2 linked regions of the Homo sapiens genome follow. The protein of the gene in region 2 purifies or fractionates together with the protein of the main gene of each other region. This does not show direct contact. Each region holds a gene or a part of one and is shown on either strand. Other genes may lie near its edges. The genes, in order: TJP2 and SNAI3.

Region 1 (8,364 bases), on a different chromosome or scaffold from region 2:
TCCAACCCCTGGGCTCAAGTGATCCTCCTGCCTTGGCCTCCCAAAGTGGGAGGATTACAAGTGTTATCCACCATGCTGGACAGGAATATTTTTAAATAATGAAACCAAGTTCCTTTCGCTTTGTAAGTTAATGCATGTATTGATGGTGAGTAGAGAACAATGACACAATCTCTAGAGAGACATAGGTGTTTGGCCTGGCTCAATCACTAGCCTTATAGTCTCACAGGAAAATATGAACTTCATCAAAATAGCTAATTATTACCACATCATGGATCTTTATGGTCATTTTCAAATAGACAAAATTACAAAGTTCAATATATAAATGCCATTGGCCTAATATCCCATTTTATAGGATTAACTATTTTTCAAGGAGTCATGAACACAATTTCAAATTCTCCATTCAGATTAATTAATTATTTCTTCTACTCTTCAATTCTTTATTTCTCATTTTTTAGCAAAGGGACTACATTTACATTTCACTTACCTGTAAAAAGGTGTGCACACGTTTTTTTAAGCTTGTTGGCTTGATCAAATAACTTTCGAGAACTTTTGTTGGACGTTGGATTTAACCTTTGTCTCATGGTTTTGACACCTTGTCTGGAGTCTGGGTTGAAAAAAATCACAATTGGGAACCACTGGGTGTAATTCAACAGGTCCACAGCTTTCGGAGTCACATCCAGTAGTGCATGCTTATCCTGTTTACAAAAGGGGAAAAGTTAGAGAAATGGATATATAAAGTAATATAGCATCAAATACTTTGTTTTAATAAGTAAAGGCTGTATGAGATATATCTTGTTTGTTTGTTTGTTTACTTATTTGGGATAGATTCTTGCTCTGTTGCCCAGGCTGGAGTGCAGTGGCACAAACTTGGCTCACTGCGACCTCCGCCTCCCGGGTTCAAGCAATTATCCTGTCTCAGCCTCCTGAGTAGCTGGGATTACAGGTGCCCGCCACCACCATGGCCAGCTAATTTTTGTATTTTTAGTAGAGACAGGGTTTCACCATGTTGGCCAGGCTGGTCCCAAACTCCTGACTTCAGGTGATCCGCCCGCCTCTGCCTCCCAAAGTGCTGGGATTACAGGCATGAGCCACCTATCTTGTAAATTTAAATCAAGAAGCAGAACACATTTCCTTCTACCTAATGCCCACTTCAATATTACCAATGTGTTAGAACTTCTGATAAAATGAATTAACACATTATTTGGTATAATGCTGGGAACTCTGGAAAAAAAAACAGTATGTTACTGCCAGAGAACAGTAACAGTGACTGGTTTCCACACAGTGAAATGGTTTGCATTTACATTATATATATATTTTTTTGAGATGGAGTTTCACTCTTGTCGCCCAGGCTGGAGTGCAATGGTGCAATCTCCGCTCACTGCCAACAGTGACTGGTTTCCACACAGTGAAACGGTTTGCATTTACATTATATATATATTTTTTTGAGATGGAGTTTCACTCGTCGCCCAGGCTGGAGTGCAATGGTGCAATCTCCGCTCACTGCAAACTCCGCCTCCTGAGTTCAAGCGATTCTCCTGCCTCAGCCTCCTGAGTGGCTGGGACTACAGGTACCTGCCACTGTGCCCGGCTAATTTTTTATATTTTTAGTAGAGACAGGGTTTCACCATGTTGGCCAGGCTGGTCTCGAACTCCTGACCTCAGGTGATCCACCCGCCTCAGCCTCTCAAAGTGTTGGGATTACAGGTGTAAGCCACTGTGCCCGGCCAATTTTTTATTATTAACATTTAATGATTAAAAGTACAGATACTATCCTAAAAGTGACTGCAGCAAACCATAATCTAATTCTTTCTGAAAACACGGTCTGTGGATGAATTTTCTCACCTGTTCAATAATTTGCCTCACGGTATTTAACCGGACCACTCCAGTGGATTTCTCAGATCCTGCATCTTTTGGTTCCGTTTCTGCAAAAGCAAAAACAGGAAGCTAAATAATTGTTTAGAAAACAGTGACAACCAAATACTCCCACCTAGCATCAAGCAATGATGGCACACCTGACATTAAGTGTCTCCTAACAAGATTCAGTGGGAAGGACCCACATAACCTGCTTAGTGGAAATCTAATCATGAAGAAACGGTTAGGCCAGTCCAACAGGAAGCATTCTAGGAGACAACTAGCTTGGATTCTTCAAAATATCAGTGTAACAAAGTTATTTAGAAAAAAGAGGGGACTGGAAAGACATAAAAATCACAAAAAGACATAAAAATCAAATGTCATGAATGGTCCTTGGTTGTATTCTGAATTTAAAAAAAAGCTATGAAGCACATAACTAGGACAATTAAGAAAACGTGGAAAATGGACTATATACAAAATCACACCACATCAATGTTACCTTTCTTGGCTGTGATAATGGTATTGCAGTTATGTGGGAGAAAGTCCTTGTTCTTAGGAGATTCACACAAGTATTCAGGGATAAAGTGTTATAAATGATTCTGCAGAAATTTTTCAAAGAGTATGTGTATGTGTGTGTGTATGTGTGTCTATGGTGCAGGCAGTGGGTGAGAGAAAATGCGTGACAAAATGTCAGCAACTGGTGATTCCAGGTGAAGGGTACGTGGGTGTTCATGATTCTTCCAACTCCTCTGTTAGAAATTTTTCAAAATAAAAATTTGGGGGAAAAAAAAACACTGACAGACTTACTAGCAGTTTGAAACCAGTCAGGTAACTCATTAGCCAATTTTTCCATTGCTATATCAGCTATGGGGCCGAATAAGACCACAGGTCTCTTGAAACCAGCTGAAATGACAAGAAAGGCCATTAAAGCATACACACTTGCCTAGCTGTTATGATAAGCAGTAAAAGTATTGTATGGGCTTTTGATAACATAACTAAACGAAAGAAACTGTGGTTTCTCCCCAATTCAGCTTGGCTCTGTTCTGAAGAATATGCCTTCACTATCCTCACCATTTAAAACAATTTTTTTCTTTTCATTCAACCACATGCTAACCTAGATTTTTTTTTAAGAGACAAGATCTCACTATGTTGCCCAGACTAAACTCAAACTCCTAGGCTCAAGCCTCCTGAGTAGCTGGGACTACACTGCCTAGCTCCTCACCATTTTTAAACACAAACTTTCCCATTGATAATATATGGAAACTTTTTTTATTTTTTGCAGAGATGAGGTCTTACTATATTGCCCAGGCTAGTCTTGAACTTCTGAGCTCAAGTGATCCTCCCACCTTGGCCTCCCAAAGTGCTACGATTATAGGCATAAGGTACAGTGCCCAGCCAATATACCGAAACTCTTGAACAGTGGTATTAAAACATTTTTTAAGTTGCAGAAATAAGCCTCAATTTAGGAACTGAAACAGCTTTTTATAAATCATGCTCCTTGTTAGAATTTGATTTCAACTCTATAAACTGCCTTTGGCATAACTGACATACATAAGTTAGAACTTGACCATACAGTCTGAAAATAAAGGTGAACAGGCTCAGAGCCCAGTCAGTTCATTTCCAGGCCCCATGTGACTTCCTCACCTTCTCGCAGCAAAACCCTCTCATAAGCTGGGAACTTGGTGCTGACAGACACAACAGCTGTGAGGTCTTCCCGACTTTTCCTCAGGTTCTTCTTCACCCCAGACCTCTGGCCACGCATTCTCCAGAAATCTGCCCGGTCCCCAGCGTTGTCTCTCTGGGCATTTTGAACACTGGCCATTTGTTCAGCTCTGAGAAGAAACCACGGGAAGTAAATCTCTAAAGCCAGAAAACGCAGCTAACATGCATTTCATTAATCAAATCCAGTCAATTTTACTTCTGAGCTCAGAGAAGATTCCGCTTGACAATGAAGAAGTTTCAGAGGGTGGGAAATGTGGGGACCTTCACTTCCAAATGGGAGCAGAAAAAGGCTGGGTCTCTGTGAAATCTCCCAGAAGTGGCTCAGCAATAAACATGTGAAATTTGGCCCATTCTGATATGCAGGTACACAGTACACACACCTGGAACTCCTGCTCAAATACAGGCCTCTTTTCTAGGTTCCTGCACTGTCAGCCAAACACCAAGTGTTCACTGGGGTGCATAAACCTCTCCAAGGATGGAGACTGGGCACCGGACAAGGGTACCTTGTCTCTAAGAGGTGTGCTGGTGTGCTACGGCCATTCAGTATATCTCTTGTATACGGTACAAGGCAGTGGATGCTCCTTAGGAAGTTGTTCAAACAGCCACATTCAGCAACCAACCACATGATGCTAAATTTACTCACAATAAACTGGCTGGTGGCTATTTACAGTTCAGGCCACTCTCCATAAACAAGAAATAGATGGTGACAAGTAATGAACTCATCATGTGGGGTTTCCTTTTACGGGGGAAGGGGGGCGGTCTCTAGTTTTCTGCAGGGGGAAGGATTAAAAGGGGTATGTGAGAATGCGATCTCTGTTACCTGCTCTTGTTGGGGATTAAGCCTTTCTCCAACTCGTTCCCAATCCTCACAGCCAGCCAGTTGCCCAGCTTGCCGTCATACAGTGTGTCTACCACTCGGAAGACCTCCCCTCTGGTGAAGGCCAGGCTCTGTGGAGTTTCCTTCTCACATTCAAAGTGGCTTCTTATAAAAAACGAATCCCCTCTGCCACAAGCCAGGATGTCTCTATACACTGAAAGACAAAAGCATCGTTTGTTGCATTCAGCTTAGTACAAGTTACAGTACTAGACACTCAACACAGCTTCTCCTATCTCTGATCTCCCCTTTACCTTCCTTCCATTCAGTGCACAAGTCCTATGGGAGTCACAGCTCCAACAGGAACAAGGACAAATAACCAGCTTCACGGCTTGCTGCAATGGTTAATTTTATTTCAACTTGACTGGGCCATGAAATAACCAGGTATTTGGTCAGACTTTATTCTATGCCTTTCTCTGAGGGTGTTTTTGAATGACAGTCACGTATAAATGGGTAGACTGAGCAAAGAAGATCGCCCTCCCCAATGCGAGTGGGCCTCATCCAATCAGTTGAGGGCCTGAAGAGAATGACAATCAGACCCCTTCTCAATTAAGAGGAAACTAGGCTGGGCGTGGTGGCTCATGCCTATAATCCCAGCACTTTGGGAGGCCAAGGTGGGTGGATCACAAGGTCAGGAGATCGAGACCATCCTGGCTAACACAGTGAAACCCCGTCTCTACTAAAAATACAAAAAATTAGCCGGGCGTGGTGGTGGGCGCCTGTAGTCCCAGCTACTCGGGAGGCTGAGGCAGGAGAATGGGGTGAACCTGGGAGGCAGAGCTTGCAGTGAGCCAAGATTGCTCCACTGCACTCCAGCCTCAGCGACAAAGCCAGACTCCGTCTCAAAAAAATAATAATAAATAAATAAATAAATAAATAAATAAATAAAAAATTAGGAGGAAACTACTCTTCCTGCCTGATGGCCTTCAAAAGGCGACATCAGCTCTTTTCCCTGACTTGGTACTGGAACTACACCATTGGCTCTCCTGGTTCTCAGGCCTTCAGACTGAGACTAGAACTAAATCACTGGCTCTCCTGAGTCTCTATCTTGCCCATTTTCACTGCAGATCTTGGCACTTGCCAGTCTCCATAATTATGTGAGCCAATTCTTTATAATAAATCTCTTTCTTTCCTATTGATTCCAATATCTCCTATCATTCTGTTTCTCTGGAGAACATTAACACAGTTGCCAATCAAGCTCTGAAGCAGACAAGGAGGACACTCTCAACACCCACTTAACAGATGGGAACAAGGCCTGGAAAGGTGAAACAACTTGTCAGACTGGACAGGGGTAACAGGCGCACCAGCCAGCAGCCATGGCCTTTGCACATGTCGTATGTAAACTCACTAATAACTCCAGGCAGAACATAAGGCTGCATCACTGTTCAGGAAGGCAGTTTTATTCCAAATTGACACAACTAGTAAAATTATTTCAGTGCATGCATAGAAAACATTTTTATGGAAAGTTAAACGGCACTCACATTTTCTTCACACACCTAGGGCCCAAGGACTAGGTGTTGAGATCCATCTCAATTTTTTAATACCCAGATTTGCCTATTCTGGTACCAAGACACCTCTCTCATCCTTCCCACTCCCCACCCCCACCCCAACTAAACTAAATGACCAAATTTGCTCACCATCGGCTCGGCTCTGAGCTAAAATGGTCACCATTTCACCTTTAGGGATTTCTAACAGGTAGAGAACGGCATCCTCCCGCACTAATCCTCTGAAATCCTGTGTGTTCACCTATTAGGAAGGAAAAACAGAAAAAGAAAAAAAAAAAAAAGAAAGAAAGAAAGAAAGAAAGAAAGAAAAAACAGAGAAGTTTATAGTAAGATGCCACTGACCCTTTTGTTTGTTTTCATCAGGGCCTGTCCAGAGCAAAGCCAAGATGCAAATGAGTCCTTAATGTCACTATTCAAGTCCTCGCGCCCAGCACCTTGCTATGGGCCTGCACACTATACCTTCCTGCCTCCCCATACTGCCAACCGCACCTTAGAGGTTAAGCCATTGAAGCAAGGATCTGTCACCAGATCACAATAGAATTTCTTGTGGTTGTTTCTATCCATCTCCCTTCTGTGAGTCTCTCACAGAGGTGGCCAAGAAGGTAATACACAAGTATGAAGCATGGGGAGTGTTGGGGTCTGTGACAACTGAGCATGCTGGCCCAGCATTTACACTAATTTTAAACTGGTTCAAATAAAAGTGTGCAAATAAAGACTCTGACCAATTCTACCCTTCTCCTATAGCTTCTATCACCTAAAAGTGTTTAACATGTGTTTATAAAATTGAAAGGTATGTATCAAATTAAAGAGCATCAGCCTTACAGTTACAAAGCAAGTAAAATTGAAATGTAGCACAAAGAACAAGACATTTTGAAATCATAGTGCTATGTGGTTTTTTTTTTTGAGATGTAGTCTCCCTCTGTCGCCCAGGCTGGAGTGCAATGGCGCGATCTTGGCTCACTGCAACCTCCGCCTCCTGGGTTCAAGCAATTCTTTTGCCTCAGCCTCCCTGAGTAGCTGCGACTACAGGCATGTGCCACCACACCCAGCTAATTTTTTTTGTATTTTCAGTAGAGACAAGGTTTCACCATGTTGGCCAGGCTGGTCTCGAACTCTTGACCTCAGGTGATCCGCCCACCTAGGCCTCCCAAAGTGCTGGGATTACATGCGTGAGCCACCACGCCTGGCCCATAGTTCTGTATCTTTCAGCCTATTTTAAAACAGAATTATAAATAAGTAAAATGCAAAAACCATATTAAAGTACCTGATATGTTAATAATATTTTGTAGAAATAAAGATATAAAATTCCTATGAAATATTTTCTTCAGTCATTGACAATTACAGAATCCTTTTAATCACAAGAGTAATGCTTTATTAAAGAAGAAACTTATCCTTAGTTGGGTGGGCCTTAATTAAGGCCAAAATTTATGATTAAGTGAAAGTCGGCATTAGACTAAAACTAATTTGGTGCTTTTAAAATAAAGTGATGTGCTAAAGCAATTGAGTTAATTTTTCCTTTGAAACAGTATTTAGTATTTAAGGTACTGTCATTTGTACCTCTCTGTCCCCCAATTAGGAATCATCCCATTTTGGTATCCTTTCTTGTGCCATTTGTTTATCTACATCTGTATCTACATATAGCCATATGTATATTTTCACATGTACTATACATGCTTGTATTTGTTTACTTAAATAAGACAGGGCCACAAGGCTGTGGGAGGACCTTGGGAGTCCTTCAGTCCATCTCTCTGGCCACAAGAGATTAACCTTAGATCAGTCTCGATCACAGTCTTCGATAGCCAAAAACTATAATGGTCAAAATTAAAGCACACATGGTAGTTATATTTTAAAAATCTACATGGTTAATAACCAAACTTAGAAGTCTTTTTTCTCTTTTCCATCCCATAAAAGTTTCTGAAAGAGAAATGACAACTCTATCAGATAAATAACAAGCAAAGAGGTAGTTCAGCCAAGCAGGAATGAGCAAAAGCACATATATCTCCATTATTGATAAGGAATATACATATCTGGCTCACGTCTTCATTCCACACATTAGGCTGTCACCTTTGCAAAACAAAGAGCCACACTTAAAAACCCCACAACAGAATAAAGTGATTAGCATGTGTATAAGGCTCACTTTATATATTCAATTTGGCCATGAAAAGGAGCATTGAAACAAATTAAAGTGAAAAAAGGCTAGGGCAGCACTTTTCTACTTGAAGGTTACATTGAACAGTCCTTTCCAATAAATATCCTCTTTGATTAGCTATTTAGTAGTCTACAGGGTCTAGCCGTGTCTGCTGTGAGCCTGAAGAGGATCCTGTATCAGCCACAGCTTAGTATTGTGCAGCAGCTTCTCCGCCCTCGTAGGCAAACTCAATCTTTTTCACCCCTTTCTAGAACGGAAAGCTT
Region 2 (8,528 bases):
GGATCACAGGCGTGAGCCACCGCACCTGGCCCCCCACCCTTTTTTTTTTTTTTTTTTTGAGACAGAGTCTTGCTCTGTCTCCCAGGCTGGAGTGCAGTGGCGTGAAATCGGCTCACTGCAACCTGCAACCTCCACCTCCCAGGTCCAAATGATTTTCCTGCCTCAGACTCCCAAGTAGCTGGGACTACAGGTGTGCGCCACCATGCCTGGCTAATTTTTTTTTTCCCCCAGATGGAGTCTCGCTCTGTCACCCAGGCTGGAGTGCGATGGCACGATCTGGGCTCATTGCAACCTCTGCCTCCCTGGTTCAAGCAATTCTCCTGCCTCAGCCTCCCAAGTAGCTGGGATTACAGGCATGCGCCACCACGCCTGGCTTATTTTTGTATTCTTAGTAGAGACAGGGTTTTACCATGTTGGCCAGGCTGGTCTCGAACTCTTGACCTTGTGATCCGCCTGCATCAGCCTCCCAAAGTACTGGGATTACAGGCATAAGCCACTGCGCCTGGCCTTTTTTTTTTTTTTTTTTTTTGAGCTGGAGTCTCACTCTTGTCGCCCAGGCTGGAGTGCAATGGCGTGATCTCAGCTCACTGCAACCTCCGCCTCCCAGGTTCAAACAATTCTCCTGCCTCAGCCTCCTGATAGCTGGGATTACAGACACCTGCCACCATGCCCAGCTAATTTTTGTATGTTTAGTAGACGCGGGTTTTTGCCACATTGGCCAGACTCGTCTCAAACTCCTGGCCTCAAGGGATCTGCCCACCTCAGCCTCCCAAAGTGCTGGATTACAAGTGTGAGCCACTGCGCCCGGCCTGGGCAAGGGATCTGAATAACTATTTCTCCAAAGACGATACACAAATGGCCAATGAACACATGCAAAGATGCTCAATGCCATCAGGGAAGCCCAAATCGCAATCACAATGAGATGCTCACACCCAGTAGAACTGAAAAAAATTGACAATAACCAGTGCTGTGAGGATGAGGAGGAATAGGGGATTCAAAGGAACGCCTCCCATCTGCCACTCTCTCCTGACCTGACCTCCTCCCACCCTCAGTTTTCCTAATTACAGAGTCATCAGGTTTCTGTCCACCCAGAAGTGACGGCAATGACAGGCTAAGAGGCAGCGTCCAAGAGAGTTCTGGGGAGACAGCACTGGGGGAGCCCCAGGTTTCCCGGCTTTGCTGGGGCCTCTCTGCAGGAAAAAGTCACCATTTCTTTTTTCCATCTCTAAGACATGGCCACCTTTCTGCCTCCAGGTATTGTCACAGAGCCAGGACCCTGTTTGTGGGCCCAGTGGCTGAGCCCAGAGGCAGGACGGGGCAAGAGACAGTCTCGCCCCGTCAGGCTGACCATGTGTTTCTGCTGGGATTTTAAATGCTTTCCCCATACTCTCTGGGTTTTGCTTGCCTTTTTATTCATGCTGCGGTCCAGATCCTGGGGAGAAGACACTGTTTTGTTTTGTTTTGTTTTGAGACAGAGTCTCGCTCTGTCGCCCAGGTTGGAGTGCAGGGGCGCGATCGTGGCTCACTGCAACCTCCATCTCCCGGGTTCAAGTGATTCTCCTACCTCAGCCTCCTGAGTATCTGGGATTATAGGCACCCGCCAGCACACCGGGGTAACTTCTGTATTTTTAGTAGGGACGGGGTTTCGCCATGTTGGCTGGTTTCGAACTCCTGACCTCAAGTGATCTGCCGTCCTCGACCTCCCAAAGTGCTGAGATTACAGGCATGAGCCGCCACACCCAGCTGAAGAGACTGTTTAAGTACCTTGCTGGCTTCAGGGGTTCCCTGGGGAGCCATAGGAGCCATTTATTTAAAAGGAGAGATTGAGGGGCCCCAAATCCCAGCACCTCAGGTCTATCCTGGGGTAACATCTTGGCAGAAAGTTGCCAGGGCCCCCTGGCTGTCAGAAAGCCAGGCAGCTGGGGCTACAGTGAGGAGGGGAGCGGGGGCGGGGAGCAGAGAGCACTGCGGGGCAGCACGGCTACTCACGACAGTTGCCCACTGGGCCCAGCACAGCTACCCAGATTTGCACACTGGGATGGACCCTAAGCAACACTTTGAAACTTGCAACTATTACCCATGTAAATTCCGCACACATGTGTAGTCACATGCGCATCCACATACACATAACAGAAGCCAGTGTCCTTCACCATGAGCCAGGCACTCCGGCAGTTTCTGCTCTATTTTATTTTACAAAATTGCTGGGGGTGACTGATGAAACTGATTTCAAAATGCACATTTGAAAAGCATGGTCCTAGCTGGCACCCCCTGGTGGCAGCCCGGGCCTCGGGTGTGGGTCCAGGTGGGATCCCCCCCATCCCCAACTCTGGGTTCTGAGCTGGGATAAAGGCCTCTTGGCGGTGTTGCTGGGGGCCACAGCCCCAACAGCGCCCTTCCTGCTCTCCCCCACCGGCCACAGAGCGTGAGTCCCGACCACCGCGTCCGCCGGCGCCCCTCAGTGGGCCTTTGTCCCAAGAAGCTGCCAAGCCAGGTGGGGACTGCTCTCACCGCCCGTGTGGCAGGCTGTCCTCTGAAGGACAGAGTCCTCTTCTCTCGTGTCCCTAAGCCTAGCAGGCAGTGGGAATGAACGGGCAGCCCGGTTGCTGGGCACCCATCTCCCCAGCCTAGCCGGTGTGTGGAGGATTGCAGCCCTTTAGCCCAGCCTGCCCAGGCAAGCCTGCCGGGGTGAGCAGGAGGGCTTCTGGGGTGAAGGGAGGTGGGGGAGGGAGGGAGACCACGGGCGGAGGCTCACCTGAACTGAATGCAGGAGGGGCAGTGCCTTTGCACCAGAAAGAGCCCATGTGTCCTTCTCACCATCCCCTGTGCTTACACCCCCAGTCAGCATGCTCCGGGGGTCCCTGAGCCGGGCCGCCCCAGACGGCCCTCCTTCCCTCCCACCCACCACCCCGCGACCCCTCCCAAACGTGTGCGCCAGGAAGATGACTCCAGGGTGCCTTTAGCTGGGGCTGTAGTGGTTGGGACGGGCGGCTGTATATCAGGGGTGAGTTCCAGGGAGACTTGGGGGCTTAGAAAACTTAGAAAACTTCTCCAAGTTGGGAGAGAATCCCGCCCGCCCTGCCGGAGGCGGGGCTCAGTGCCCTGAAGTGGAGGCGCCCGTGGGCCACCTCCCTCCCTGCAGCCGCAGCCGCTGCGCAGAGGCGCTGGCTCCTTCTCCTCCCACCTGGGACAGGTGTCTCCCCAGCCCCCGCTCCCAGGGGCCTCTCTCTCTCTCCCGCCCCTCAGGGTCGAGTCCCGGCAGGGGCTCGGGGATCGGGTAGTCAGTACCTCTCTGCGTCTCCAGCCGCCGGTAGTTGGGGACCCTGTGGCTGGAGTGCGTTTTCACCAGGAAGGAGCGCGGCATGTTCCCCTCCCGGGCGGCAGGCCGGGGTGGGCTGGGGCGGGAGGGGCGCGCCTGGGTCCGGACTGCTGCGTCCGCCGGCGCTTGAAGGGGTCAGGCTCATTAGCATAGCGCGCCGCCTCCGCCAACCAGCGCCCGGCGCGAGTGGGGCGGGGCCACGGGGGCGGAACTGAGGGCGAGGCGGGGTCTCGGGCAACACGCCCAGGACAGGTGCGCGGGCGGGACGGGGCGGGGAGCGCGTGGCCGCCGGTGTCCTCCCCACGGGAATTCTCTGGCGTGCGCGCCGCCGAGTCACACACCGACCCGTCGGGCCTGGCCACCCACTCGCCGTGAGTGAAGGGCAGAGTTCAAAGCTGTGTGGAAACCGAGCGAGAATCTCTTCCACAGAATGTGGAAGCGTCGGCCGAGCGCGGTCCTTGGAGAACCCTTGCTGCGGAGAATGACGCTCACTCTGCGGCCTGGCCTCGCCTCCCCATCCCTTCTGCAAACTCACAGGACAGGATTGATGGGGAGAGCCCAGGCGAAACGAAGCTGACCCTAGTGACCAGCCCTACTGGCGGCTCTGGAACAGGCCCGGGACCGGTGGCCTGGAGACAGTGGTCCTTTCTGGATGGGCTGCAGTCTCCGAAGGCTTCCCCCACTGGAGTCAGCCCTTTAGGAGTTTGTCCAGTGCCTCCAGAAAGCTGTTTTTTGGGGGACGGAGGACTTGGCCTGGAATTCTGGAATTCCCAGGGGGTCAGACATGGTTATGGGAAGTTTAATAAAACCGGTGAATCACGTGAATTCTGCAACAGCTGCACGTGTGACCTGGGCAATCCGTTTCCCTCCTTTGTGGTCCTGTAGAGCCCTCAGGGTCATAAAAAGCTGGGAGCCGCTGTGTCCAGTGTCTGGGTCTCTTTTGACATGGACATTTCATAACGTTGGGGGCCAGGTGGGGCCGTCTCTGGGCTGGCGTGCACACAGGGTGTCCCTGGCTGTGCCGCCGGCCTGCCTCCCCAGCAGGGCTTCCACCTCAGAGCTGGGTGGCCTTTGCCCCCTGTGGGCCGGGGGTGGAGAAGGTGGGGGGTGGTGAGTCCATGGAAGCTCTGAGGGACAGACAGCAGGGAGGAGGGCCGTGCCACACCAGCATCCCACGTCCCACATCACACGTCCAGGGTGTGAAAAGCTGGGCTAGTATCAGCCCCACTTTGCCAATGAAAAAAAACTAGGCTGTGAGTCTGGGCTCAGCAGCTCACGCCTGTAATCCCAGCACTGTGGGAGGCTGAGACAAGAGGACTGCTTGAGCCCAGGAGTTTGAGACCAGCCTGAAAAACAACATGAGACCCCGTCTCTACAAAAAAAAAAAAAAAAATTATTTTAATTAGCCAGGCGTGGCAACACCCATCTTCAGTCCCAGCTACTCAGGACGCTGAGGAGGGAGGATTGCTTGTTGCAGTAGCCTCCAGGAGGTGGAGGCTGCTGTGAGCTATGATGACCCCACTGCACTCCAGTCTGGACAACAGAGCAAGACCCTGTCTCAAAAAATTAAAAAAAAACAAAAAAGAAGACCAAGGCTGTGAGAGGTTAGGACACAGTGGGATTGGGACCCAGCCACACTCCAGCTTGTCTGCCACTTGGTGAGGGGGAGTGGAAGGACAGGTGGAGGTGCCCCTGGAAGAAGGTGCCCGCCTCTCCTGCAAGCATGGCCTGGCACCACCACGCCGGGAGTGTAGATTTCAGAGGACACATGCCTGCCTTCTGCTTATTCACCTGTTCCTCGCCTGGAAAGGTTTCTATTTATAGCCTCCCTTCCTTCTCTCTCTCCCTCGCAGACACAGATAACGCTTGCAGATACCTGAGCCAAGCCTCCACCCACACCGTCCCTCCCCGCCCACCTACCCGTTGTGTGGCCACCCGCCAAGCCCCAGCAAGCTTATCTCCTAATCCCAGCTAGAGCCTGGTGTTACTCAGGGCTGCTGTAGCCCTCCCGAGGAGAATGGCTGATCTCATCCCGGGAACGCCCTAGAGGGCCTGCGAGCACCTTTGGGGTGGGGTCCCAGGGCTGCCGCAACAACTTGCCCCCCAGGGACACTCAAGTCGGCTGCAGACTCACTCTTCAGCTGTGATGCACAGGGCGGTGTCCAGGCTGGACCCAAGAAGGCCCCACAGAGGGAAACATCAGCGTCCCCCTTCCCACAGGTGCAGCCTCGGGGGTGGGGATTGGGGGAGGGCGGCCGTCTCCATCCTTTCCGTGTCTTCCGTTCCTCACTGCCGGCAGCTTGGCTCTGGGGGTTAAACTGACGTGCCCCTGAGTGGGGAAACCCACGGCCCACAGCCTGCTAGACCCGCCCTCCTGAACTGCAGCAGGCGACCCAGGTCCTTGCCCCCTTCCCTGGACATCTAGGACATCAGGATGATGACTTGTGCTGGGCCCGGCAGCCTGGCCCCTCCCATCTGCCTCCATCCGACACCCAAGAGCGGTTTTCCAGTGGGTAGCCCACCCCAAGAATTGCCGGTCAGGGCAAAAACGGTTAGAGTTCCATTTATGTTGACATTTTCATCCTTCCTACACGTATGTCTTCCTGCCTTTCTGGTTTTACAGTGACTGTAACCATAGTGTCTGGAGATGTGCACACAGGTATCCAACACGGTAGACATCTCTGTCACCATTGACTGTTGTTTGTTTTAAGATGGAGTCTCACTCCAACCTCCGCCTCCCAGGTTCAAGCAATTCTCCTGCCTCAGCCTCCCAAGTAGCTGGGATTACACGTGTGCACCACCATGCCAGGCTAATTTTTGTATTTTTACTAGAGACTGGGTTTCACCATGTTGGCTAGGCTAGTCTTGAACTCCTGATCTCAAGTGATCCTCCTGCCTTGGCCTCCCAAAGTGCTGGGATTACAGGCGGGAGCCACTGCTCGTTTTTTACTCATAGGGCTTTATGACCCAAACCTTGGAAACCCTCACTCCGAATTAGAACACAGTCCTTGAGAGCTAGACCAGGAGGGGCTCAGCCCTTGCTACCTGCACAATGCCCGCCTGTGGTCAGGTGCATGCTGGGGGTTCAGCAGGGCTTGTTGAACTGGATGGAAGAGAAGCAGGAGCTTGCAGACAGTGTGGCCTTTCTAGAGGCCCTGCCCCATGCTCTGGGGGCACGTAGGCCCTGTCTGTCTCGAGTGGAGACACTCAGGTGAAGACCCAGGCCCTCAAAGGAGAGTCTGGCAGCTGGGCCTTGCTTGTCCTTGGACTCAGAGAGATGGCCCCTCTTGTAGGAGCAAAGGCAGTTCATCGAGGCAGACATCCCATGCGGAGGCAGACATCGAGGGACAATCCCATGCGGCCCAAGGTCATGGGCCCATGGAAACTTGAACCCAGTGCTTGAAATCTCAACATCCAGCCAGACCGGGCGCCACTGTGTGCTTGGTCCCCCTCCGTGAAGGGGAACTCACTACTGTTTATGGCTGCCCACACCACCGTCTGAGGGCCGGATTGTCAGAGGGAGGGTGGTTTTTTGTTTTTTTGTTTTTTTTTTTGTTTTTAAGACGGAGTCTCACTCTGTCACCCAGACTGGAGTGCAGTGGCGTGATCTTTGCTCACCGTAACCTCCACCTCCTGGGTTCAAGTGATTCTCCTGCCTCAGCCTCCCAAGTAGCTCGGATTACAGGCATGTGCCACCATGCCTGGCTAATTTTTGTATTTTTAGTAGAGACAAGATTTCACCATGTTGGCCAGGCTGGTCTCCAACTCCTGACTTCAGGTGATCCACCTGCCTTGGCCTCCCAAAGTGCTGGGATTACAGGCGTGAGCCACCGCACCTGGCCAGGAAGGGTGGTTCTTAAGCTGGGGTTCAGTGGACACATCCTGTGTGATATGGGGGTTCTGAGAGGCAGACAGGGTTGTTTTCAGAGCCCCCAGCGAAAGTGGCTTTCAGTGCCAGTGCCAGGTGGCTGGCAGCCCTGTGCTCTTGGGAGATGAAGGGGATGGACATGGTATTTGCCGTGTGCCTTTCCCGGGATGTGTCGTTTGCCTGGCAGATGGCCTAATGCCTAGTTGTCTGACCTGCAACCATGAGTCCCCCCAGGAAACTTGCTCACACTGGCAGACGCCCCGTGGCTCCTGTCTGATTCACGTCCAGGTTATGCCTGCCTGACCATCGCTCTGGTGTTGGGAGCCTGCCCTCTGTCCCCCACGTCCCCGAGAAAACCCAGCCTGGGCAGCCCCTGGTTCTTCCTTGTGGAAGGTGCAAATTCAGTCCCCACTGCAGTAGGAAACATGTTCAAAGACTTACTACTCACAGGTCCTGGGCAGGGAGGGCGCCAGGAGTGGGAAGGGCCATCCTCCGTCCCCAGATCCCACAGGGCAGAAGTGAAGAGTCAGGCAGAGAGAAGACAGTGTGTGGTAACGGGCCGTATGCACAGGGAATGGGGAGTGGTCACTGCAGGTTCACAAGCAAATGCCTGAATGGTCTGATTAAAGGAAGTGCAGGGAGTGCGGGCAGCCCAGGCTCCTGGGTGGGAGATACGCCCCTAAGTGCTCATCTCTGGCCCCTGACATGGGCGGTTGAGCGTGGTGTCCTCCTGGTGCCCAGGCTGCAGGCTTGGCTGTGCTGCCCGTTAGAACAGTCCCTACCCACACCAACCGTAAGACACATGAAACTGCACAATGCCTCAGCACAGGCAAGGGAGAGTGACCGGTGCTGAGGGGAGCCCTTGGGCCTGCGGCAGATGAGGTGAGACTTGAGCCATCAAGCAGCGAGGCAGCGTGCGTGTGAGTCTGCAGGCCACAGGCGTGTTCGTGCGTGTGTCCATGGGCGTATGCGTGTGGGAAGTCGCAGTAGCTGCTCTGAGGTGACATGGAGGCTGGGCATCAGCGGGTAAGTCCCGGGCACCAGGAGAGGGATCTGTGGGGTCCCCGGCATCGTCCTGCCGAGTTGGATACCTGAGCTCGGTTCCAGCAACACCATCCGCTCTCTGCCAGGGTCCTTTGAGATTCCCACCTGCCGTGTGAGGGAGCTGACACCTTACTCGCGGCAGGCTGTGGGGCCACGCCCTGCAGCTGAGGGAAGGAAGAACTCAGGCCCGCTGAGTGTTCTTTTGTCCAGCCACAAAGGGAGCAATGCCTGCCGGACGAGGGGCTGGGGCCGCATCATGCCTGGGACCCGGATGAGCACTGTCCAGGGCTCCTGCGAACA

What was found.
Region 1: the proteins of SNAI3 (region 2) and TJP2 purify together in Homo sapiens (affinity purification with mass spectrometry; 3 studies listed by BioGRID and IntAct, with this or other methods). This does not show direct contact.

Annotation. Positions count from the first base shown.
Region 1 is NC_000009.12:69,232,268-69,240,631, reverse strand, and holds part of TJP2 (tight junction protein 2), read right to left. Parts: intron 6,194-8,364; coding exon 6,085-6,193; intron 4,605-6,084; coding exon 4,394-4,604; intron 3,684-4,393; coding exon 3,496-3,683; intron 2,755-3,495; coding exon 2,659-2,754; intron 1,923-2,658; coding exon 1,843-1,922; intron 696-1,842; coding exon 485-695; intron 1-484. UniProt on the Homo sapiens protein: Plays a role in tight junctions and adherens junctions. Acts as a positive regulator of RANKL-induced osteoclast differentiation, potentially via mediating downstream transcriptional activity.
Region 2 is NC_000016.10:88,683,046-88,691,573, forward strand, and holds the start of SNAI3 (zinc finger protein SNAI3), read right to left. Parts: upstream 3,463-8,528; 5' UTR 3,362-3,462; coding exon 3,286-3,361; intron 1-3,285. UniProt on the Homo sapiens protein: Seems to inhibit myoblast differentiation. Transcriptional repressor of E-box-dependent transactivation of downstream myogenic bHLHs genes. Binds preferentially to the canonical E-box sequences 5'-CAGGTG-3' and 5'-CACCTG-3'.